7 linked regions of the Homo sapiens genome follow. The protein of the gene in region 5 purifies or fractionates together with the protein of the main gene of each other region. This does not show direct contact. Each region holds a gene or a part of one and is shown on either strand. Other genes may lie near its edges.

Region 1 (3,500 bases), on a different chromosome or scaffold from region 5:
GGCTTAGATAACAGAAGCCAGAAGTTACTTATAAAGAAAGCTTAATTTCGTTACATAGTATGGCAAAACCTAAGCGGAGATTTAAAGACACAACATCCTAATAGAAGTTAACTTGGTTCCATTGAAAACCCTCTTACGATCACAAGTGCTAACTTCCTTTCTAAAGGGTTGGAATAGGTTTGCACTCCTACCATCCGCAGTCTGCTCTTTCCTGGTTGTACGTTTCACTGATTCCCAAGTTCTGTTCAGGCAGAGAAGAAAAAAAAGTCATTAGTGCTACAGAAGAGAATTTTCTTAGGTTTTCTCTGTACAACCAGAACTTCTTAAATGCAATGCATGCAAATGTACTCATGATACTGGTCAAGAAGACCACAGCAATAAACGTCTGCATTAAAGAAGCTAATTCTGCTTTCCTATAGCTTCTGAAAATTAACAACGAAAACTCTTGCCACCCTACACCTCACCTTCTGGGTGCCCCCGAAACAGAAAGCCTGCTAAGCATGTGAGCTGCCGCTTTCTCAGAAAACTTTAGTTTGGATCCTATGTCTCTGGGCAAGGAGCACAGCCAGTGACAGATTAATAAGCAGGTAATGCAAATGAAGCCATAGGAAAAGACTCACCCCGTCTCTAGGAACAAAAGCTACTATGGACAACGTGAACTATTGAGATTTTCATATCATTTTGATTTTTAAAATATGTGACCTAAAACACACAATTTAAGAAGGTAGAACCTTCCCATTTATTAATGGAAGAATTATTAAATGTAGGCAAGTGCCCCTACTTTGCATGTGTGAGATCTTATCTAGAAAAAGTGGGCTGAGTAACAGCACAGTCCTGCTCTCTTGTATGGCTTTATTCCTGGTTAGCTATTGGTTTCTGACTGTTACCCAACTCAGCTTTTGGGTAACATCTGTGCTATTCTACTTTCTGGCCTTGGAACATGGGGCACAGTTGTACAGGAAACCCAGTTACTGACACAATTATGCAGTTTAAAGGGGCGAGGCATAAAAGGAACATTCTCCCTTCACTCTCTTCTCCCTACAACAGAAAAAAGCAGTGGTAAGAGACCAGAGTGGAGAAGCAAACAATTTTAGGATCTCTTTTAAAGGAAGTGAAACATGTGGGTGGCTCTGGGGCTTGGGATAAAAAGGAGTTACCACCTGCATCTCGATAGTAAGAGCTGCAAGATATCCTCCTCGGAACCCTCCTGCTCATGCTTCCTATCCGGCTGTCCTTAAAATTTGGACCTTGTCATATTTTCATTAAAATTGTTCAAATATTTAATTTGCTTTTTAAAAAACAAAACAAAAAGACTGTCTGGAAATTGTAGGTCTTTCAGCATTGTACCCAAATTCCGAAGGCCAAATATGTCAAAATGAACACAGGAAAATCAAACAGACTTCTATGACAACTCACAGCAGCCCAACATTCCTGTTAGTAGCAAGGAGCTGACCAACAAGCAATGCTGGTAAGTAAATCATACAGATTGCAAGAGATGAACACCTTTTGGCATAGCTCTCTCTGCTGCCTCCTAAGGTTAGTCCTAAAGACTGAAGAAGACAGTGCTGGGAAAAGCACTGAAGGTCCCATCCCAAACACTAGGAATAAGGGAAACAAAAAGAGGAGCATCATTATCGTGGTTAAGGTGAAGGAAACAAGCAGTAACGAGCCATAAATCACCAGCAATAAAACAGAAACGCATTGATAAGAAATCTCGGAATAAGATTGCCCAGTGAGAGCTCCAACAACTTCAAAGGGCCTGTGAGATGCACAGCTGACTGGAAGTCAGCTCTTCGTCTCTACTTGCCCGCCAGCTAAGCCCAGAGCTCCAGCCTCCCTGAGGCTCTTCCCTCCTTTGTAAAAAGCAGGAATGAGTATGTTTTCTCCAAAACCTCTTCTAGCTTTAGGATTCTGCTTCCAGTGAGATCATCCTATTCCTAGTCTTCTTTGTTATGGAAAAGCCTGTTGGCCTTCCTCCCTCTAGTTCACCAACACAAGAGGCGGGAGGGTCAGAGGGTGACTTCGGCACTGTCTTGAATGTCAATAGACACAACACTACTGGAATATTTTTATATTTCTAAAATTAACCCCACATCCCCTTTCATGAATGAGACGGTGGAACATAGGATTCTCTAGCTGCTATTTTATCTCTTAGACTCGGCCCTTCATATCCGTGGGTTCTGCATTCATGGATTCAACCAACCACCCATTGAAAATATTTAGGAAAAAAATTGCATCTATACTGAACAGGTCCACACTTTTTCTTGCCATTATTCCCTAAACAATAGAGTACGACTGTTGACACAGCATTTGCATTGTATTAGGTGCTGTGATTACTCTAGAGATGAAGTGCGTGGGAGGATGTGCATAGGTTAGAGGCAAATACATACTGAGTATCTGCATTTTCATATCAGGGACTTCAGCATCTGTGGATTTTGGTATCTGCAGGGGGTCCTGGAACCAACCCCGACAGACACCAAGTGACAGCTGTACAGGTTGAGTATTCCTTACCCGAAACGAGGGGCCGGAAGTGTTTCAGAGTTTGGTTTTTCAGATTTTGAAATATTTGCCTTACCCTCTGGGTGTCATGCAGGCCTTTTTGACATTTTGAACAGTATCTTTACCCCACAGAGCAGGAAATAAGCCAAAGAACCCCACAATGAGTCATGCACATAGGTCTCAGCCCTGTGTAGGGTGTTGTGGGGAACTGCTGCTGGGCATCCGGTCTGCACACATGCCATTTCATGACCCTCTGTGGGAGTACCTGCAGAGGGAAGTCGCCGTGTGCGTGCAAAGGATATATCGGGCCGGGTGTGGTGGCTCACGCCTGAAACCCCAGCACTTTGGGAGGCCAAGGTAGGAGGACTGCTTGAGTTCAGGGGTTCGAGACCAGCCTGGGCAACATAGTGAGACTCTGTCTCTACTAAAAAAATAAAAATTAAATAAATTTAAAAAAAAAGGATATGGCCGGATGCGGTGGCTCACGACTGTAGTCCTAGCACTTTGGGAGGCCAAGGTGGGTGGATCACCTGAGGTCAGGAGTTTCAGACCATCCTGGCCAACAACACTGCCTCTACTAAAAATACAAAAATCAGCCAGGCCCAGTGGCATGCACCTCTAGTCCCAGCTACTCGAGTGGCTGAGATAGAATTGCTAGAACCAGGGAGGTAGAGGTTGCAGTGAGCTGAGACCACACCATTGCACTCTAGCCTGGGCAACAGAACAAGACTCTGTCTCAGGGTAAAAAAAAAAAAAAAGAAGGATATAGCTGAGCTGAAGGGGAGGGTTCCTTTTCCCCTGGGGGGACACTGAATGTCTGTGTTGTATGCCTGTGTTCTGACTGCAGCCTGTCACACAGAGTCAGGTGTGGAATTCTCCAGCTGGGGCATCATGTTGGCAATGAAAAGGTTTTGGATTTTGCAGCATTTTGAATTTCAGATTTTCAGATTAGGGCTGCTCAACCTGTACACGCAGGCTTTTATATCAGGTCAGAGATAACA
Region 2 (3,500 bases), on a different chromosome or scaffold from region 5:
TTAAAAAATTATCTTTTTGACAGACCTAGTTCCTTTTCAGCTTGAATTATAGATGACACTTCACTTTTTGTGTGATTAAGAAAGCAGAAGGTTTTCTGTGACCTCACCAGTAGCGGACCAAAACCATATTAAATTCTGATTTGACTTAAAGATTGATCTTTCAGATTTAAATATGGGGATGGGTGTGTTAAACCACTTAAGAACTATTTTACATCCTCGATAATAAAACTCTAATTTAGAAATATACCATAATGGCCGGGTGCGGTGGCTCACGCGCATAATCCCACACTTTGAGAGGCCAAGGCAGGTGGATCCTTTGATCCCAGGAGTTTGAGACCAGCCTGGGCAACTTGGCAAAACCTCATCTCTACAAAAAATAGAAAAATGAGGCAGGCATAATGGTACACATTTGTGGTTTCACCTACTCAAAAGGCTGAGGTGGGAGAATCACCTGAGACCAGGAGGTCGAGGCTGCAGTGAGCCATGATTGTGCCACTGCACTCCAGCCTGGGTAACAGAGTGAGACGCTATCTCCAAAAAAAATAATAATAATAAAATAAAAATAAAACAAACAACAAAAAAAAGGAGAAGAAAATAAATATACCATAATGTTGAAATATAAAAATATAGGGGGTTCTTTCTAAATGCCAAACTTCTTAGTTTGCAGAAAGAAAGGGCATGTTTCCATGCAATAAGTTTATAAAGCAAATAGCATGTTCAAGTACAAAAGACTCTTTCATGAACTGCGGATGAACCTTCTGAGTGCTGGACATAATCTCAAGATTTAAAGTTGGTTTACTTAATATATCTTCTAGAATACAATCTTTAGGAAAATGTTTTGGCATCCCATTCATAATTCTCTGTCTAGTCTAAACCATAGATACTTATTGCTAATGTCATATAAAGCTGTGTGTGTGTGTGTGTGTGTGCACGTGCACATACATGTGCCTGTTTGCACATACCTTGTACAAAAGTGCTACTTTGCAGGAGGGAGTAGAACAAATCACATAATTCAATTCTTTGTTGCATGACCCTGGGTGCTTGGCTTAGTCCAATTCAGGTCATAGGCTGAAAACAAACTACTAGTCCCAGCCCAATTTTGAGGATGTCCAAGAGGCAGACTGTTTTTATCCCAGATAACCAAAGAAAAGCATGTAAGGATCTGGAACAGATACTAATTGTGAGAACGGTAGCTTAAGCCTAGAAGATACCGCTGTACTGGTTGATTTCTTTTTTCTTTCTTCCTTCCTCTTCCCTCCCCATGGTTGATTTTAAGCTGTTTCTTAGCTGCAAAGTGAGGAATTTTCTAAGAATTATGTTAAAATCAGAATCAATTAAAGAATCCATATAGTACCTGCAAGTAATTTTTTTCTGAATATAGTTACCCCCTGAATTAGGGATGTACTCTTAAATACGGAGTCTATTATGCACTAATTAACAAGAACCTTCAGAAATCTTTAAGAGGAAAACATGTTCCATGAATTTTGTCCTTGGGTAGCCAGTGAGAGAAATCCAGGAATAAGTATCTCCTTCTTCATTAATGCTGATGCTTTTCTGAGAGATAGCATTGAAAAGAAATCTAACTTCACTACCAAATGTTGTGTTCTCTTTCAGTAAATTTTTATTTTTCTATTTTTATTCTCACAAAAGTGTTTTATCTTATAATTATATTTTAATTCTAAACTATAGAGATGACCAATTTAGATGGAATTAGAAGAAAAAATAGTTTGATAACCTTAAAAAAACTACCAGTAATTTATGTTATATATTTTGCTAGCAAAATACTTTCGTGTGTACATTCACTAAATCTTCAGCATTATTTTACTTGGCTTTAGAAGAGTTAACAGCTAATAATAGCTAACCTTTATTGATTGCTTGCTGTGTGCCCAGCAGGATGCATAGCACTTTGTGTCCATCATCTTACTTAATCTTCCAGTGGTTCTATGAAGTGGGTACTATTATTACGCCAGTTTACAGATGGGAAAATGAGAAATGAGAGTTTAAGTAACTTGTCCAAGATCACAAAACTAGTAAGTGGCAGAACCAGGATCTGAACCAGGATCTGAATTTGTTCTCTTAACTATTACAGCATGTCTCATTTTTTAGAGATCTATTTTTAAAAATTCTATCTAGCCACACCAAACAATCTTTAGGAAACAAAGGTTTCTTCTCTTTTTCTGAGGGGGAGCAAGAACCCGTATACTTGCTCAATTATTAATGAAATCTAAGTTGGAAGGGTTTTTTTTTTTTTCACTTTCAAAGTTGTTAACTATTTGTGTTTCCTCAACATTCAGATAATAACCCAGAATGTCTTGGTGATACTATTCCAGTTCCTCAAATTTCTTTTAAGAATAGTATATTCTTTTACCTTCCCCCTCATTTTGATAACTCTTTCTGCTTGAATAGTATTCTTGCTCTTCCCGTATAAGAATTTTCAGTTTAAATTAAGTCTGAATTAAAGTAGATGAATTTTATTATCTTCAAAAGAGCAGAACTGATTATTTGGATACAAAGTGTTCAAAATCTGTTTTGTGATGCTTTTATACTTAAATATTTAAGCCAAATGTCAGTTAGTGTAAATTAGCAGTATGTTATATTAAGTATTGAGCTTCAAAACTATAGCTATTGTTGCCGTGTATTTAACTTTGGTAATACCTAGCGTTATTTAGAAAAAAAGAAATATTGGTGAGTGGTCTCATTTCTCATGATTTATTTTATTACTGGTACATTAGAATTTACAGTACTGATTTTTTTCCTATGCGTTATTTGGTACTTATTTATTTTCATGTATTTTTTTTATATCGTAGGCTCGTTATCGGAAAGAGCAAACATTGCTTAAGCAACTGCCTTGCATTCCATTGGTAGAAAATTTGTTGAAGGATGGGACAGATGGCTGTGCATTAGCTGCCCTTATTCATTTTTACTGTCCTGATGTTGTCAGATTAGAGGGTAAGTGTTCCATTGTAATACTTCTGAACTGTAGACAGATAGTAACCAATATTTAAGACAGTATTATTTTGCACTCCAGCCTAGGTGACTGAGTGGGACCCTGTCTCAAAAAAAAGACAATATTATTTAATAAGTACTGAAGACTTTTTTTTAAAAATAAAGAACATTTATATATAATTCTGAGGGAGGTAGTTCAAAAAAAAATAGTGCTCGGTTTCTAAGTCTTAATGTATAATGACTACTATATTTATAAATGTATGTTTGTTAACCAGAATTGTGTATTTGTACTAATTACAAGATGGATATGAAATATTTATTATCAAATTAATCCAAAGTCACCACCTTGCTCTTTTCTTATTTGAAGATATTTGTTTGAAAGAAACTATGTCTTTGGCTGATAGCCTGTATAATCTGCAGCTGATTCAAGAATTTTGCCAAGAATACTTGAACCAGTGTTGCCATTTCACTCTGGAAGATATGCTCTATGCTGCTTCATCCATAAAGGTAAATTAAATTATTCTTTTTTTCCCTTTGCTTTGTTAAAATATGTT
Region 3 (3,500 bases), on a different chromosome or scaffold from region 5:
TCAGTGCAGCGCTAGCCAAGAGTGAGGAACCAGCAGCTGCTGTTGGGGGCCTGGAGAAAGAAGGGTATTTTTCAGTCTGCATCTTTTGGATGGAGTTTATCCACTCACCCAGAGGCTGTTTGGCTTCCTCAGAGCAAGCCCTGGAGTTCAGAGAGGTAACGCCAACCATCTGACCTGCCTCTTTTTGCAACACTAAGGCTCAGAGAGGAAGCCTTATCTCTTTGAATGCGATTCGTATTTTCCGAGAACCCACAAGATCGATCACTCTGAGCAGGCATTTCACTGCTCATGGGAAAGTCTACAGTCTCAGCCCTCAAGCCAATCCCTCATACATTTGATTAAAGCTGACTCACAGTCTGGATTCCAAAGCTGTTCACCCACAGGCAGTGGAGGAAACCATCTACAGAAGTCCCGAAAACATGCTCAGGGTCAGGCTGGTGGCACTGGCTGGCCAGGGACCTCTGCCATCCGCCTGGCTGGTGGAGCCTCTGCCGTCTTCGGGGTCCTTGTGGACTGCACCAAGCTCCTGGCTCACGCCTGGCTTCCTGACCAAACACCTCATTTCTGGTTTACTACCTTTGTCCAAACAAATATCCTAGACCCTGGACTCACTTCTGTTCTTATGTTGACCCTGGGAAATTCCTCTCCCTCTAGCGGGAACAGGAAGTACCCTGGACTCTCACGTTTCCACCTGCTCCTCTTCGCTTACAGCCATTCCCTGCCTGTTGTCCTACGTTGCCCCTTTGGGCTGACATGGTATTTGCACAGTCTGCAAAGCTGGGAAATTAAAGATCTGCCCAGGTTGGAGCCCCTGTTCTCCAGGGACCTCCTCCCTCTGCCATCGCTCCTGGTCACAGGTGCTTTCGAGGTACCTTCCCGCCAGCAACCTTGTTCTGTGCTAGAGACTGAGCCATTCCCACCTCAGATTATGGTCCACATGTCTCCGTGCCCTTCCCCTTGGGCTGCTCTCCGTCTCACCTTCTAGAATTATGTTCTCAGCCGACTGCAAATCAGGGTGCAGCATCCACCAGCGCCTAACTCTCAGCAGTTCAACACTACCCCCTTCAATGCTTTTCTGAGTTATAAAAACATCTCAGGGCAAAACACCTACTGGTCTCCAGGAGCTGAGATCAGTCAAGAAGCAATTACCTATAGTTCCTTCACCTGACTCAAGGAGAAGCTGAGGCAGGGCCGTCTCCCTGCTGTCCTCCCTGGCTCACAAGGTGATTATGAAGGCAAATGATTCAACTGAAAGCATAAATCCTGAGAGAGATAAAGGACCATTCTTACTGTCAGCCAGACCAAGGGCCCCATATGGCCATCCTCACCTGGACCAGCAGAGGCTCATGACACAGCCTCTCAAGCTAGGTCTGAGCCTGCGTTCCTCTACAGCTCCCCCACCACCCTGAGCCCGTCTTTGTCACTGCAAGCGCCACATCGTATTGTAATCATCTGCTCCAGATAGAGACAGCATCTAATTAGTTTCTGTACACCCACGGTGTCTGACACATGGAAGGAACTTTACAAATGATGAATGAATGCATAAGTGAATGAACAAGAGGAGTGAATAAAATAAGACTTGGTTTTAAACAATGGTTGAGAAGCAGCTGGAAATGCTCCATGCAAAGTAGTAATCAGAATGACTTCACAACATGGATCCTTTGCCCAACGTGAAGACGTCCTAGCCCTTATGTCAGCCCTCTCCCTGGGACTTGCCTGTATGGCTCCATGGTCCGAGTACCATAGAACAAGGCTTCCTCCAACAGGCCGAGGTTGATGCAGGCATCCATGGCGCAGTCGAGCACCTTCAGCTGGTAGATGTTGATATCGGGAAGCCGTTCAGAATTGCTGCTTATGATTGCCTGGCACATGGCCAGAACCTGCTCCCACTCTGTTATTAACCTTAGTTAAGGATTCATTGTCTTCATCAAGAAAAAAACAAACAAAATTAGATTCTCTAAAAGGCTAAAGAGCTCCCAAGCACAGGAGCGAGGGAAGCACCCGTTATTTTTCACAGATGAGCTGCCTGAAAACACACTTGAGAAGCAAAAGCACAGAAGAGGCATCTCAGTGAAGTGAATTCTGTTTACATCAACAAACTATCTCGTAACCAGGCCTGTGCTTTGGAGTTTTAAAACTTCCAAAGACCTGTTCTTGCTTCATACTCCTAGATGTGTTCTCTTTAAATCTAGTCATAAATAAATGCAGTCCTTTATTAAATTGGACTAAAGATTAAGTTAATTCGATTTTAAATTATTTACTCTGTTAGCTTCTGTTTAAAAACTGTTTGAAATTAAAGATGCTTTAGAGAGATTCCTTTTTCAAAAGGAAGAGCTCATGTTTGCTTCTGTGTTACCTGAGTTTTGGGCATACATGAACCCAAAAACTCACACAACCCACAGGCACACACTAGGTGGAGCAATTTGAAGACATAGATTTCCACTGGGTCTCATTTTTTCCGATTATAAAGCAACAGTGACCCCAGCCTGTACTTAACCAAATACATTAAAATATGTTATTTTAAACCCCCAAAATAAGAGACAGTATTAGGAACATGGCTTATGCACATCAATTGCTGGCAAGGGAAACGATGCTTTAAAAAGGATGGGGAGAAGACTCAATGTCCACTTCTCAGTAACTGCCTTTCTGATTAACCATGAGTCAGTAACTTCATCTCATGTAGCCTTGGAGTGACTTCGCTTTTTAAAACTGATATTCCCTGTCTTACAGAGGCAGTCAGAGGACTGAGGACATGGTTTATGGAGCGTAATTTTAATCCCTCCCCAGTGAATTCTCTGGGAAACACAGCGAAGGCCAGAGTGCAGGACCCTGGGACCTCGCAGTTTCTTCACTGTGCGGTGTGTTAGGCGAGCTGGAGACCAAGGAGGGTGCAGGACTGGGACTGGTCCTTCTCTCACTCCTGTCTCACCTTCACCCAGTGGAGCTCCAAATTCATCTGCTTCATATGTTGTCATTCCAGTAGGGTGAAAAGGTTTGAAGATCAGAAATGGCAGCCTAGCCTTTGACTGTAGTAAAGCTAGATTCAGATCTAATCGAGTCCTGTCATTTATCAGAGTTGAGGTTCTGAGGAAGTCAAAGTGCTTAATGATAGGCCAGAAATAGAAATGACTCACGTCAACGTAAGAATGAGTAATATATTGTATGTAAAATGACACAGTTCATGATGTGTCCTCTCATGAGCCAGGGAGAGTTCCAGGTGTCAGAGACACAGTGGGGAACATTTCGTGGCATGCACAAAGCACATGCTACACAAGCATTAGTGCCTTCCACCTTCCCTCTGTGACATGACCTCTGAGCCTGACTGGGCTTAAAGAAAGTGGTTCAGTGGACTGAGTTTGACTGAACTCAGTGCCCCCTTCGTGCCCCCACACCCCTCCCACTCCCACATGACCTGGTCCCTTTACAATCCATGCTCTCTGTGCCATCCCCTGCCCCCAATTCAAAACCCTCTTCACTGAGGTCCTAACAGAGCACGCCCA
Region 4 (3,500 bases), on a different chromosome or scaffold from region 5:
CTTTTTTGTCCTACTTAATTTTTATGGTTTAGAAAATTTTCTCCCCTTTAGTTTTACTGATTTGTTTACCATATGGATTGTCTTCAGTGATGGTGATTGGCTAAATTAGGTTGAAAATGATAGTGAACATGTATTGAGAGCTCATTGTATGGCAAGCATTACTCTGTGCTCTTTTTTCTTTTCTTTTTTTTTTTTTTGAGATGGAGTTTCACTCTTGTTGTCCAGGCTGGAGTGCAGTGGCGCGATCTTGGCTCACTGCAACCTCCGCCTCCTGAGTTCAGGCAATTCTCCTGCCTCAGTCTCCCAAGTAGCCGGGATTACAGGTGCGCACCACCACACCCTGCTAATTTTGTATTTTTAGTAGAGACGGGGTTTCTCCATGTTGGTCAGGCTGGTCTCGAACTCCCGACCTCAGGCGATCCGCCTGCCTTGGCCTTCCAAAGTGCTGGGATTACAGGTGTGAGCCACTGTGCCTGGCCTTGCTCTGTGTTTTTTAGGTGAATTAGTTGGCTTTATCATTCACACAACCCTCTAAGGGCAGATACTGTCACCATCTCCATTTTTCCAGATGAGGAAAAGGAAGCAAGGAGAAGTACTTGAACTGAGGTTACGGAGCTGTTAACTGGCTGAGCTGAGATTTGAGTCTAGGTAGCTCTGTTCCTTAGCATTATGTTTTCATGATTCTTACTTGTTCATCTCTATATTTAGTCTCTCTGGCTTACAGTTTCATTCTCCTCCCATCCTCTTTGGAGACTGTACCTATATCATTCTGTGATTTTGGGGCAGTGTAGAATCCCTAAAAGTAAATTATGTCATGCTATAGACTCTGTAAAGAAGTATATTTAGATCTTGGACTAGAAATTGAAAAACTAGAATTGCTTTAAATTAAATGTAGAATATTTGGTTTTTTAAAAACATGAAACAGTTTCTTGCTTTGTTAATAGATCTTAGATATGTGTGCAGCACCTGGCTCAAAGACCACACAGTTAATTGAAATGCTACATGCCGACATGAATGTCCCCTTTCCAGGTATGCATTGGACTTGTGTTCAAAATGGTAGGAATGCCACTTTGGCAGATTGTAGACAAGGAAAAGACTCTAACTTTGCCTGCTAATTTGGCTCTAAAGTCTCCTATGACAAGCAGTTGGGTTTTCCGTCTACCGGAAGTAGAACTGGACATCTTGCCTACCACCGTCAGTAGTACTCAAACAAACACACTCATACCATGGGGGAGCTTTATTTTAGAATTATGTGTGTTTTCTATAAAAACGAATGGCATTTCTTTTTTTTTTTTTTGAGATGGAGTCTCACTCTGTTGCCCAGGCTGGAGTGCAGTGGCGTGATGTTGGCTCACTGCAAGTTCCACCTCCTGGGTTCACGCCATTCTCCTGCCTCAGCCTCTCGAGTAGCTGGGACTACAGGTGCCCGCCACCATGCCCGGGTAATTTTTTGTATTTTTAGTAGAGACGGGGTTTCACCATGTTAGCCAGGATGGTCTCGATCTCCTGACCTCGTGATCCGCCCGCCTTGGCCTCCCAAAGTGCTGGGATTACAGGTGTGAGCCACCACGCCCGGCTGCAGATGGTGTTTCTTTATCAAGCCTACTTACAGAAGATAGATTTCACTGTTTGAATTTTTAGTAACAATTTCCCCTTTCCCCCACCTTTGTTCATTATTATTACTATTATTATTATTATTATTACTTACTGCCTTACATGAAGGGTAGTAGTGTGTAGTTAAAAGCTACCATCAGACTCCCTGGGTTCAAATCCTAATCGGCAAGTTACTTACAGTGTTAGACATCCCATGTGAAATGGGACGAATCAGTATGTAGCTTGCGAGGTGCTCAGGAAATGTTAGCTGTTATAGTGACACCACGCCCCTTTCTCTTAAGTGGAAACAAATACCCATCGTGATGTTTTAGAGTCAGCTTTCATCTCGTCCTATCTTTGTTCAGGCAAACTTCTCTAGTTCTGTTTTAATAGGCATATTTGTTAGGTCTGTTTTTTGAAATCCTCTTTTTTACATTGTTTAAAGATAATGCCTTGGCTAAAAAGCCTGCTTCACTTTTCCCTGTTTTTAGTTGTTTTCTCCACATTGGCAGTAAAGAGCCTTGGCGTCCCAGTAGCAGCAGGTTCTCCTTTTTGTATTGTGGATGTTTTGCATTTCATACTGTTGTGAAGAGTGGCTTTGATCATACATGTTGTTGGTATATTTGCCTTTTTGCTGGGGGTGTGAGAAGAACCAGAGATGAGCAGAGGTACACCCAGTAGACTTCCCAGCCTGCAGAGCCTCCCGGGAAGAGCTTCCGTGTTCAGGTGCTTGGGGCCCCACCCTAGGAGCCTGACTCACAGTCAGAGCAGGGTCCCGGCTTGTGTTCAGGATTTTGAAACATTTGTAAGGTGATTTTGTTGTTTCTACACCTTTCTCCTCATCTTTTTTTTTTGTAGTTAATCGTTACTAATAACAGAAAAGACATTTTTGGCATGGTAATTGGCACAAAGTGAATAATTGTTGAATAGATGACTTTTGAGGCTTTCAAAATTCGAGTGTCCATAAAATCCATCCAGAGCCACCTGGTTCCTTTTTTTGAACCACTTAACGTAATTCTGGAAAACCTTGACTGTGGGTCTTAAGTTTGGTGGATTGCTGCTTCTCACTGGCTGACCTTTGGAGGTCGCATATTTCAGGATGTGATTCCACTTAGGCTCCATTTCACCTGACACTGCAATTCTGTGCCTTCAGAGGGATTTGTTATTGCGAATGATGTGGACAACAAGCGCTGCTACCTGCTCGTCCATCAAGCCAAGAGGCTGAGCAGCCCCTGCATCATGGTGGTCAACCATGATGCCTCCAGCATACCCAGGCTCCAGATAGATGTGGACGGCAGGAAAGAGATCCTCTTCTATGATCGAATTTTATGTGATGTCCCTTGCAGGTATTTATCTTATTGGCCAAAAAGCCCAAATCCACTAAAGAAATCAAGTCAAATAGAGACTAAAATGAAGTTGTGCATGAATATGACACAATTGTACATAAGTCTTGGGGTGCGGAGAAAGATAGCGTGAGCCTAAACCAAAAGATGGACACGTAGATACGTCTTAATGAGAAGCAGCACAGCAGATGCTGGATAAAGAACAGAAAGGGGTGGTTGCAATAGCCTGCAGAAAGATAAAGAGAAAACAAAACAAAACAGAGAAAATACGTAAGAGGAAAATAGAATCGTAGACTCTTATTGTGGTGTGTTTTAGGATGTTATTGCTTGGAACAATTTGTGCACCCCAACTATTTTGTATTAGTTCTTCCAGTGAGTACAGTATATAAAAAACTTTGTCATAAAATAATACGTAATCACATTGGATTTTATGTTATTTAGTTGAATGAAAGAAATTTCGGAGTTCAAGCCCTTAAGAAATTCATTTTGCTTGTGTTTTTATACCTTTCTTGAGATAATACATCAACATTTTAGATATTTAGAGTTTAGATATAAAATAATACT
Region 5 (3,447 bases):
GCCCAGCTCAGCCCTGCCAGGTCTGACGCCCTTTCTTGGCTCACCCCTAAGAGAGGAACAAATGCTTCGAGATGTCGTCCTTTGTGGAGACCAAGGCCATGGAGCAACTGACCAAGAGCCCCATGGAGTTTGTGGAGTATCCTTTGAAGGTGCTGTGGGCGGGCAGGCCAGGGTGGGGCGCTCGGAGGCCGGCTCCGGTGTTCTGTCCCCACATATGCCACCTGCACAGGGTGCTGGCCCTCCGGCGGCCCTCCTGCACCCTGGCCTGGGGCTTGGGCAGATCCAGGCAGTCTCAGGGGGCATGGCTAGGCTAAGAAACAGAGGCCGGGTGTGGGGGTCACAGGAGCACCTGGCTGAGGCCGGAGGTGGAGGCTGATGGGGTGGGCCCTGGCACCTGTGTGGCCCCTGACCACCAATCTCAGATACAACAAGCAGCAGCTCAGCCGCATCTACCCCAAGGGCACCCGCGTGGACTCCTCCAACTACATGCCCCAGCTCTTCTGGAACGTAGGGTGCCAGCTTGTTGCGCTCAACTTCCAGACCCTCGGTGAGCCCTGGCCCCCTCCATCTTGACCCCGACCCTCAGTCTTACTGACTTCTGACCCACGATCCTGCTGGTCTTGCCTGAATGGACCTCTGACCCTGTCTCATCCCAGATCCCAGGGGAACCCAGCTCCCGACTCACCCCGCCTCCTGCCCTTGGCTGATACCAGACCCCTCCCCTGTCTGATCTGTCCTGGATCCGGACCCTGATGCCATTTGAGCCCGCCCCTGACCCTGGACCTTGGATGCCATCTGACCTGATGATCTCCCATTCCCCACATGGCACCGTCCTGCCTGATCCCTGCCCCTGCTCGACGTGCCCGTGGCACCCCAGATGTGGCGATGCAGCTCAACGCGGGCGTTTTTGAGTACAACGGGCGCAGCGGGTACCTGCTCAAGCCGGAGTTCATGCGGCGGCCGGACAAGTCCTTCGACCCCTTCACTGAGGTCATCGTGGATGGCATCGTGGCCAATGCCTTGCGGGTCAAGGTGGGGCTTGCGGGCGGCTCAGGCCAGGGGTGTCCTGGGGGCAGGACTCTCAGCATCCGCCTCACCCTCCTTGGCCCACCCCCAGGTGATCTCAGGGCAGTTCCTGTCCGACAGGAAGGTGGGCATCTACGTGGAGGTGGACATGTTTGGCCTCCCTGTTGATACGCGGCGCAAGTACCGCACCCGGACCTCTCAGGGGAACTCGTTCAACCCCGTGTGGGACGAAGAGCCCTTCGACTTCCCCAAGGTGAGCCTGGCCCCTGCACCCGCCCAGGCACAGGCAGATCCAGCCCAGACCGCCCCGACTCTCAGGTGGGAGAACAGGAACCAGGCACACCGTTGGCGACTGGGGATCAGAAAGTGGGGGGTGCCATGGGTCCCCCAGGACCTGCCTGTCCGAGCGTCAGTCTCCCTGCCCTCCTTAGGGTAAGAGACCAGGGTGAGAAGGTGAGATGGGGGTTGGGGGGTGTCAGCTAGACGTCTTGTGTCCCCTGCGAGGAGTGGACACAGCCTACCCTGTCTCCGAGGCAGGAGCTGAGGTCACAACCCCAAGCTCATATCCGCTCTTCAGCACCCCGCACGGCCCTGCATGGACGCGGCCTCTGCTCCCAGCCTGGGCATGTGTGTTCTTGGTTTCCTGCTCATGACTCACTCCCGTTTCTAAACTGGCAATGACCAGAACTGTCTGTGGGGGCCCTGGAGGGGCCTGGCTGCCTGTCATCTTGCCTCAGGGTCCTGATGGCTGCAGTCATCCATTAGGCCAGGACATGGAAGTGGGGTCAGCCATCAGCTTAGTGGCAATGGTGACTGATGGTCAGTAGGTCAGCTCGTCTGAAGGTCTGCTTTGTTAAGCTTTGATGGCTGTGGTTAGCTGTGGCCTGGTAGCCACAGTGGCCCAGGGTCAGCCCTGTGGCTCAGCTCCAGTCTGGCCCACAGGTGGTGCTGCCCACGCTGGCTTCACTTCGCATTGCAGCCTTTGAGGAGGGGGGTAAATTCGTAGGGCACCGGATCCTGCCTGTCTCTGCCATCCGCTCCGGTGAGGCCTTGGTGGGCTCTGGGCAGCACAGCGGGCAGTGGGTAGGGCCCCCACCTGGCCCAGCAACCCAACGTTGCCTTCCTGACCACCCAGGATACCACTACGTCTGCCTGCGGAACGAGGCCAACCAACCGCTGTGCCTGCCGGCCCTGCTCATCTACACCGAAGCCTCGGACTACATTCCTGACGACCACCAGGGTGAGCTGGGGGTGGGCGGGGCCTGCCTGGCCAGGGAGTGTGAGGGACAAGGGCCACCCCCAGGGCCTGGGAGTGGCCGAGCTGGATGGCCCCGACTGAGTAGGGAACTGAGTAGGGAACAGATCTGAGGACAAGCTCTGGAATTCCTCATTGAGACCAGAGGTGGCGGGTGGGGGTGGCCTGGGGGCTCTGTCTCTGAGACCTTGGCCTTCTGCCTCCCCCCAGACTATGCGGAGGCCCTGATCAACCCCATTAAGCACGTCAGCCTGATGGACCAGAGGGCCCGGCAGCTGGCCGCCCTCATTGGGGAGAGTGAGGTGAGCCGGGGCAGGGCAGGGCTCAGGCTCACTGTGACCCAGGGGGCCGCTGGACATGACTGCTGTGGCCACATGAGGAGGGGGCTTCTGGTCTCTCTAGCGCAGTAGGCTTGGCAGCCCTGGGATTTTGAGGAGATGAAAACCACCCATTTGCATTCAGGAGGCCTTCAGGTCACACCTGGGCTGGAATTCCTCCAGCTCCATGTAGGCTTGGAGTGGGGGTACAGGGGTCTCAGCCACTTCATCAGGGCAGTGCGAAGCCACAGAAGCTGTTCAGACGTGGTGTCCTGGGAGTCATGAGGAGGGCAGTGGCTTCCGTGGGGAGGGGTCAGGCACGGAGGTTCACCTGCGCTTCCAGATCCAGTCCCCCCAGGGCCTGCGGCAGGCGGGCGGGGAGAGATGACTGCAATTAGGGCTGCCTGGAGCTGTTAGCGGAGAGGCTGGTGCCCACTCTGCGGTTGAGTCCTCTGTTGATTTAATCAGGAGCTCAGCAGCAAGGAAAATGAGCGACTGTAGGCAAGGCTGGGGGACACAGGCAGGGGAGGAGAGGAGGCTTGGGGCTGGGCCAGGCCTTTCCAGAACAATCTGGGAGTTACTGAGCACATGCAGTGGGCTGGCATTATGTTATCTTCCCCACAGCCCATGTGGAAAAGGGGTTTAGAAAGGCTTGATTTATAGCTCTTCTCATGCAGACAGCCTCCTGTTACAGAGCAGTCCAGCAGTGGCTTGGACTAAGGGAGGCTGACAGGGGTGCTAGGGGACCCAGGAGGTGGTAGAGGACAGAAGGGTCTGGAGGGAACAGCATTTCTGAAAAGAGCATTCTCCTTTCTCCCTATAGGCTCAGGCTGGCCAAGAGACGTGCCA
Region 6 (4,002 bases), on a different chromosome or scaffold from region 5:
AATGATAAAATTTATGAGTGGGTGTAAAAGCAGAAGATTTACAGGCTAACTATTGAACATGATACTGTTTTGCTAGACAACACCATAAGATGGATGAGCTGTAACAGTGACTTGGTTTAACTAAAAAGCAGCTGCTCTCTCAAGTATGCGGTCTCTCCAAACAATGTTAAATGCTCTGATTCACTGATTAAATATGAAATGTTTCCACTCCGAAATTCACACATGATGTTTATGTGGAGGATGTACTCAGAATTATGACACTGTGATGACAGGCAGAGACAGTGTGAGCCCCGGAGTGGCCGCTCAGTGCAGAGGAGACTGCCCACTGTGGGTCTGCACATCACCTCCCCACCACCAAGAGGGTAGCCCTGACCACACGTCTTACTGCTGGGGGTTATACACAGGGCAGTCATAAATCATCACTGCAATATTTATAACTTCTTGCCTTGAACCAGAACCAATTAAAAACACACTTGGAAAACATGTTCTCTAACATCCTCTTTAAAATATTTATATGGATCAACTTTATTGAAAGTGAATAAACAGAGATAATGTGGCAAAAAGAAATTTTCCCAATATTAAACCCTTGATGATACTTTTAAATTCACTATAAGGAAAAGAATCCACCAGTAGTAGGTAGCTACTTATTTTTGCTGAGTGTCCTCTGCTTTTCTGCATGCTCCACAATCTTTTCTTCCACATAAAGCCCCTTCCGCTTTCGTACTGCGTTCATGTACTTCCGGGCTTGGTTCTCAGAGTCAGCCTTCTCCCCAAAGTGCAAGTATTCCTCCTCAGTAGTTGGCACCCAGAAGGGGTCACTGGGAATGATCTTGTAAAAGAAGATGACAGAATGTGCAAGGTTAGGCATTTTTAATTTCAAACCTTATTCACTGAGCTCCCCAATTTATATAGTCTTAGCTAATGAAAAAAAGTTAGGCAATGAACAGCTAAGCTTGCTAGGAATGGTAATAAGTATGAAGAATCGGCAGGGTGTGGTGGCTCACGCCTATAGTCCTAGCACTTTGGGAGCCAAGGCAGGTGGATTGCCTGAGCTCAGAAGTTCGAGACCGGCCTGGACAACATGGTGAAACCCCGTCTCTACTAAAATACAACAACAACAACAACAACAAAAATTAGCTGGGTGGGGCGGCATGTGCCTGTAGTCCCTGCTACTAGGGAGGCTGAGGCAGAAGAATCACTTGAACTCGGGAGGCAGAAGTTGCAGTGAGCTGAGATCATGCCACTGCACTCCAGCCTGGGCGACAGAGTGAGGCTCCAACTTAAAAAGAAAAAAAAAAGTATGAAGAATCATGGGAGGTGTGAACAAATGGAAGTAGATTCAACAAAACTTGTAACATACATTATTATTCTTTGCTCCTAGCGCCAGTTCATAACACTAAGGAAGAAAGAAAACTATTAATTTTTCATAATATAATTTTTAAAAGCTTTCATTTTTGCTAGGATATATCTGAATGTTAATGTCTTTGCCATCAATATTTTGCCTTTGTCCTCAACCTCAACAAAGATCAACACATGTAACTACACTCTTATTATTATTACATATATTTTTTTATTTAAGAGACAGAGTTCTGCTCTGTTGCCCAGGCTGGAGGGCAGTGGTGCAATCATACTCACTGTAGCCTCAATCTCCTGGGCTCAAGTGATCCTCCTCCCTTGACCTCCCAAGCAGCTAGGATTACAGGTGCATGCCACCATGCCCAGCTAATTTTTAATTTTTTTTCTGGAGGTGGTGGGTGCATGACATTGTGAATGGGAAAAATGCAGCAAAATGTTTATTTAAAATGTTCAAGTTTGGGGGAGGCTGAGGCAGGTGGATCATCTGAGGTCAGGAGTTTGAGACCAGCCTGACCAACATGGAGAAACCCTGTCTCTACTAAAAATACAAAAAATTAGCCAGGCTTGATGGCGCATGCCTGTAATCCCAGCTACTTGGGAGGCTGAGGCAGGAGAATCTCTTGAACCCAGGAGGTGGAGGTTGTGGTGAGCCAAGATCACACCATTGCACTCCAGCCTGGGCAACAAGAGTGAAACTCTGTCTCAAAAGAAAAAAAAAAGTTCAATTTTATGTTGTATGAATTTCACCTCAGTACATTATTTTTAAAAAGAGAGACTTAAAGAAATTTCCCTGAATACAGAATACGGCACAGAGAGATGGAGATTAAAAAAAAAGTCTCAAAGGAAAGTCAAGAGCCATCAAGTATGTATAGGGTATATCTAACAGGAGTTCTAAAACCAAAAAACAGAGAACAGGATGAGAGTCTTCAGATGGAAAAACCTCACTGAGTCTGGACCAAGATAATAAAATAATCCACCCCTTGTGACAGTGTTGAAATGCTGGAAATCTGTGGGCACCTGCATCTCCTGAGGCTCGATTCTGACCCACTAGACACTATAGAATGGGAGGTGTGAGCCACAACTGTGCTTCTTGCTCTTGAACAAAGGTTGGAAACAAAGCAGCTGCCTGTGTCCTGGTGCTGAGGCAGGTACAGAGAAAATCAGAGAGAAAAGCCAGATCTAGAGAAGAACATGAATCAGACCAACGAGACGCTTCGCATCAGCAACAGCAGTTGCTGGGACACAATGAAGTCCTTCAGAGTGCTAAGGAGCCTCAGTGTGAGCCTACACGTCTTTATCTAGTTAAATAAACCATTATCAGCGAACCAAAAAAAGCCTCTGTTGGACAGACTTTAAAACATATTACCTCTCATGGACACTCAACAAAAGAACTAGAAATATCCTTTCAAAAAAGAGTCCCCGGAAGGAAAAGGCAGACAGTAGAAGTGAGAGCAGCCAGGGGGCACAGAGGCATTATCAGCACTAGAGTAATAACTCTGGTGGGTGACAGCAAGTCTAAGGAGCGTCTCGAAGTGGGAGCCCAGTTAGAGGTTGGGCAACAAGGGGCAGAAAAGGAGACAAGGTCCAGGAATTGGGGGGGGGGGGGGGTAGGCAGAGTGGCAGACAAGGGCGAATGGATGGAATTTAGACGAGAAACGGCAGTTAAGAAGGAGGAGTGGGGAGGAAGCTCAGTCCTGTGGACTTGGTCATCTGAGGGGGTTCTTCTGGGTCAGAGGGTTTGTGCTATAATTTTGTGGGCACAACAGTCCCAGAGACTCAATTCTGATTCACCAGCCACTGGGCCTAGGATAGAAAGGCTCATTCCAGATCATTCACCAGCAAACAATGTCAACACGATACCAGTAGGGCTGAGTCAGTATGGGCTCAGGGCCTGGGCAGGAGGAAGGGAGGGAAAGTGGTTGCCACTCAAAACAGCCTGACTGGTCAAAAGCCACCCACCCAGGGTGAGGGTAGGTGTAGCTATGTAGGGGGAGCATGAGGGAGCCTGTGGTGATGGAACAATTCTGTATCTTGATTACATAAAGCTACATATGTAATACACTTTTATAGCACTAAAGACACACAAACTCCCATGAATATACAGAGCAGAAGAAAGGGAGCCTGCATCTTTGATGGTGTCCCTGAGCCATGGTACCAGCCCTACTTGCTTAAACAATTACTATTCTGGCATTATGGTTCTTGCGGCTGAAAACACTCATAATCTATCAACTGATACAGGGTTGTTGTGAAGACTGAAGAAGATATTATATGAAAGTCATATGGTAAAGCACCTGGCATATCCTAGATTTGTCTGGCTCCAAAGCCTGCCCTTTGCCATGTTTGCAGACTGCCATGAAGACTGAGTTTATCCAAACATAAATTGCACAATGGTACTAGCTAAGTCAAGTGCATTTATTATAACTGGTGAAACCTGAACAAGTGCTATGGGTGTATCAATGTCAATGTACTGTAAGAGATGTTAACATTGGGGAAGGAGGGGTGAATGGCACATAGGACCTCCTTGTACATATTTTTTGGTAACTTCCTATGGAAAAAAACTATTGTAATTTTTTTAACAAATTCTTTTTAAGACACCCGGCCACAAGTTATAATTCTCTTTTGTCTGGAGGTAAAATTCTCAACATT
Region 7 (3,500 bases), on a different chromosome or scaffold from region 5:
ACTTAAAGATCTGTCTTAGAGACTGTTTTATAACCGTATTTAAGGAGATGATTTATTATTTTTTATAAGCCACATAGTATTCTACCATATAGATGTACTAAAATTTATTACAGCATTCATTACCTTTATGTTTCATATATGTATTACATTATGTTTCATATACAGCATTGACTGCATTTTTTTTGTCATTTTAAACAATGCTACAATGAATAGCCTTGTGTATATATCAGTTTGCAGTAGGAGTATGTACGTGAAATAACTTATGGAAGTGAAATTACTGCATCAATGGGAGTAGAAAGGTATTTTAAATATATTTGTAACACAAGCATTAAAACACAAGAAATTCTGGTTTAGAAGTTCTTAGACGCAGCTGCTTGTTAGAAGTACCTAGGGGGCTTGTAAAGAATAATGATACTCAGGCCACATATCTAGACCAATTAAATTAGAATCGCTGGGATTTAGGCATCAGTACTCTTTAAAGCTTCCCAGGAGATTCCAGTATGCACACCATGATGACAATCACTACTCTAGTTAAATGCTACTTACTATTTACTTTAATATGTAATTTAATATTTAATTTAATTACTATTTAATATGTTATAAATTTAACCTGAGACCTGGGTTATTTAGCTTATAAAGTGTCTTAGGATTGTAGCTTCATGTATGTATCATGGACACTAAATTAAAGACAACCTCATGACAGTGTTAGAAATTCTATCATTTTTCAAAAGTAGTGACAATTTACCTTCATTTTCTACATTTCTTCTCTTCTCATTTTCCTGTTCAGCTTTTCTTTGGTACTCATTAATTCTATGCTGTAGCAACATTTTCTCCTTCTCAATCTGAGACACTGTAGATTCTAGATTTCTTCTTTGATTTCCCTGGAATTATAATGATAAAAGTTACCACTGTGATTAATACTCTGGTCATTCATTCAAGTGAGTATTTTGTTCTTAAAAACAAAAAACAAGAAAAAAAAAAAGACAAACACTTAAGATGAATGTTCTGTTTCAAACGCAAATAGTATCTCCTAATACAACTTTCTAAGTAGCTTGCCTTTTAAGAAGACAGTGGGAATCTGTCTTCTGTAGCTGGGACTACAGGGACGCACCACTGCGTCCAGCTAATTTTTCTATTTTTGGTAGAGACGGCTTTTGCCATGTTGGCCAGGCTGGTTTTGAACTCTTGACCTCAGGTGATCCGCCTGCCTCAGCCTCCCAAAGTACTGGGATAACAGGCATGAGCTACTGTGCCCAGCCTAAAATACCCAAATTTTCACAACTTAAAAATGTACCTTTCTGAGTTACCACTATCAGTAAATCTTGTTTTTGATGCTTCACTTTTTAAGACTCCACATTAGGAAACCTGTTTTACAGTGTTTCTGGGCTTTCTCATCTTTAAGCAGAAATTGGACATAAATCATTCAAGGTCTTTCTGATTCTAAGAGTTTATCATTCTAACTTTTAGTTAATTTTTAGATAATTATACATTCAAAGAAAGTTGCAAAGATAGTACAGAGAGGTCCCAAGTGCCCTTCCACTCAGCTTCCCCCAGTAGAGACATTATATATAACAATAGTACAATAACAAAATCAGAAAATTCTCACTGGTATAAGGAGTGTATGATTCTCTCATTTTATCACATATGTAGGTTCATGTAAGCACCACCACAACGAAGATACAGAACTGGTCATCACAACAATTTCTTTCCAGTCACTAGTTATAGCCACACCCATCCCCGTCCTCCCACCACCCATACTCCTGGCAACTAATGGTTCTCCATTTCTATAATTTTGTCTTTTTGAGAATGTTATATAAATGGAACCATGCAATATATGACTTTTTGAGACAGGCTTTTTTTTTTTTTTTTTTTTGTATTTTTAATAGAGATGGGGTTTCACCATGTTGGCCAGGATGGTCTCGATTTCCTGACCTCGTGATCCGCCCGCCTCAGCCTCCCAAAGTGCTGGGATTACAGGCGTGAGTCACCGCGCCTGGCCAAGACAGGTTTTTTTTTTTTTTAACTCAACATAAAGACCTTAAAATCCATCTCTGTATTGTATGTATCTACAGTTTATTCCTTCTTGTGGCTGAGTATTCCATGGTACAAATGTACCGAAGTTTGTTCAACCATTCACCTACTGTAGGACATTTTGATTGTTTTCAGTTTTTGGCTATTACAAATAGAGCTGTTATAAACATTAGTATACAGGTTTTTGTGAGAATATACATTTTCATTTTTCTGGAATACATGCCCAAGAATACAATTGCTAGGTCACATAGTAGGCACATGTTTAGTTTTTCAGGAACACAGCCAATTGGTTTTCCAGAATGTCTGTACCATTTTATATCCCCATCTGCAATGTCCAAGTGATCTAGTTTCTCCATATCCTTGCCAGTTTGCTATTGACATAATTTTAAAACTTACTTTTTTTCATGGTTATGGAGTAATATTTCATGATAGTTTTAATTTGCACTTCCCAAATGACTAATTATGTGAACCTCTTTTCATAGGTTTATTTTCATCCATATATCTAAAAAGTTTAAAAAGTATGGATTCGCTTTCCTTAACACTTATATAGGGCTACTGAAATTACCTATTTCACACTGTATGAGTTGTGATAGTTTGATTTTTGAGAAGTTAGTCCCTTTCATCTACATGTCTTAATTGTGTTTAGAACTGTTCATAGGATTTCCTTATGATTCTTTTGATACCTATATGGTCTATAGTATATGCCCTATTTCATTCCTCATACTGGTAATTTGTGTCCTCTCTTTTTCCTTTATCAGTCTTGCTAGAGGTTTGTTAATTTTGTTGATCTTTTCACACAGCTTTTTGTTTCACTGATTTTCTCTATTGTTTTTCTGCTTTTAACTGCCTTGTTCTCTGCTCTTATCGTTACTTGTCCTTCCTTTTGCTTGTTTTGGGTTTATTTCACTCTTCTTATTCTAGTTTCCAGAAGTAGGAGTTTAAATTATTGATTTTAGACTTTTCCTCTTTTCTAAGGTAAGCATTTAGTGCTATAAATTAACCTTCATCACCATGTTAACAGCATCTCACAAATTTTGATGATGTATTTTCACTTCATTGTTCAAATATTTTGTAAAGATAAAGAGCCATAACAGTTTTATGAGACATAATTAACATTCCAATGTATTTTTTTCACTGAGACTTCTTCTTTGACCTCTGGGTTATTTAGAAGTTTATTGTTTGCTTTCCATGTGTTTGCAGATTTTTCTGTTATTCTCATCTGTACATTTTGGTCAGGAAACTGTATGATTTCAGTGCTTTCAAATGTGTTTGTTTTATAGCTTGGGATGTGGTCTACCTTGGTGTGTGTTCCTTAAGCACTTGAAAAGAAGGCATATTGTGCTGTTAAGCAGAGGGTTCTGTAAATGTTGAACAAATTCTGACAGCTGACAGTGTAGTTGAGTTCTCCTATGTTTGGTGATTCTTACGGGTGCTGAAGTCTCCAACAATAATTATGGATTGGTCTATTT

Evidence for each region.
Region 1: the proteins of PLCB3 (region 5) and NUDT5 fractionate together in Homo sapiens (co-fractionation; one large-scale study listed by BioGRID). This does not show direct contact.
Region 2: the proteins of PLCB3 (region 5) and CAMSAP2 fractionate together in Homo sapiens (co-fractionation; one large-scale study listed by BioGRID). This does not show direct contact.
Region 3: the proteins of PLCB3 (region 5) and SMYD3 fractionate together in Homo sapiens (co-fractionation; one large-scale study listed by BioGRID). This does not show direct contact.
Region 4: the proteins of PLCB3 (region 5) and NSUN2 fractionate together in Homo sapiens (co-fractionation; one large-scale study listed by BioGRID). This does not show direct contact.
Region 6: the proteins of PLCB3 (region 5) and EFL1 fractionate together in Homo sapiens (co-fractionation; one large-scale study listed by BioGRID). This does not show direct contact.
Region 7: the proteins of PLCB3 (region 5) and ROCK1 fractionate together in Homo sapiens (co-fractionation; one large-scale study listed by BioGRID). This does not show direct contact.

The regions. Positions count from the first base shown.
Region 1 is NC_000010.11:12,178,892-12,182,391, forward strand, and holds part of NUDT5 (ADP-sugar pyrophosphatase), read right to left. Parts: intron 1,599-3,500; exon of another isoform or gene 1,504-1,598; intron 242-1,503; coding exon 192-241; intron 1-191. UniProt on the Homo sapiens protein: Enzyme that can either act as an ADP-sugar pyrophosphatase in absence of diphosphate or catalyze the synthesis of ATP in presence of diphosphate.
Region 2 is NC_000001.11:200,829,393-200,832,892, forward strand, and holds part of CAMSAP2 (calmodulin-regulated spectrin-associated protein 2), read left to right. Parts: intron 1-2,807; coding exon 2,808-2,949; intron 2,950-3,313; coding exon 3,314-3,453; intron 3,454-3,500. UniProt on the Homo sapiens protein: Key microtubule-organizing protein that specifically binds the minus-end of non-centrosomal microtubules and regulates their dynamics and organization.
Region 3 is NC_000001.11:245,856,780-245,860,279, forward strand, and holds part of SMYD3 (histone-lysine N-methyltransferase SMYD3), read right to left. Parts: intron 1,892-3,500; coding exon 1,717-1,891; intron 1-1,716. UniProt on the Homo sapiens protein: Histone methyltransferase. Specifically methylates 'Lys-4' of histone H3, inducing di- and tri-methylation, but not monomethylation. Also methylates 'Lys-5' of histone H4.
Region 4 is NC_000005.10:6,619,545-6,623,044, reverse strand, and holds part of NSUN2 (RNA cytosine C(5)-methyltransferase NSUN2), read left to right. Parts: intron 1-944; coding exon 945-1,029; intron 1,030-2,746; coding exon 2,747-2,939; intron 2,940-3,500. UniProt on the Homo sapiens protein: RNA cytosine C(5)-methyltransferase that methylates cytosine to 5-methylcytosine (m5C) in various RNAs, such as tRNAs, mRNAs and some long non-coding RNAs (lncRNAs).
Region 5 is NC_000011.10:64,261,530-64,264,976, forward strand, and holds part of PLCB3 (1-phosphatidylinositol 4,5-bisphosphate phosphodiesterase beta-3), read left to right. Parts: intron 1-51; coding exon 52-136; intron 137-422; coding exon 423-547; intron 548-656; coding exon of another isoform or gene 657-730; exon of another isoform or gene 731-837; intron 838-877; coding exon 878-1,032; intron 1,033-1,117; coding exon 1,118-1,279; intron 1,280-1,968; coding exon 1,969-2,068; intron 2,069-2,161; coding exon 2,162-2,266; intron 2,267-2,491; coding exon 2,492-2,583; intron 2,584-3,421; coding exon 3,422-3,447. UniProt on the Homo sapiens protein: Catalyzes the production of the second messenger molecules diacylglycerol (DAG) and inositol 1,4,5-trisphosphate (IP3).
Region 6 is NC_000015.10:82,129,733-82,133,734, forward strand, and holds the end of EFL1 (elongation factor-like GTPase 1), read right to left. Parts: intron 830-4,002; coding exon 641-829; 3' UTR 501-640; downstream 1-500. UniProt on the Homo sapiens protein: GTPase involved in the biogenesis of the 60S ribosomal subunit and translational activation of ribosomes.
Region 7 is NC_000018.10:21,007,314-21,010,813, forward strand, and holds part of ROCK1 (rho-associated protein kinase 1), read right to left. Parts: intron 882-3,500; coding exon 746-881; intron 1-745. UniProt on the Homo sapiens protein: Protein kinase which is a key regulator of the actin cytoskeleton and cell polarity.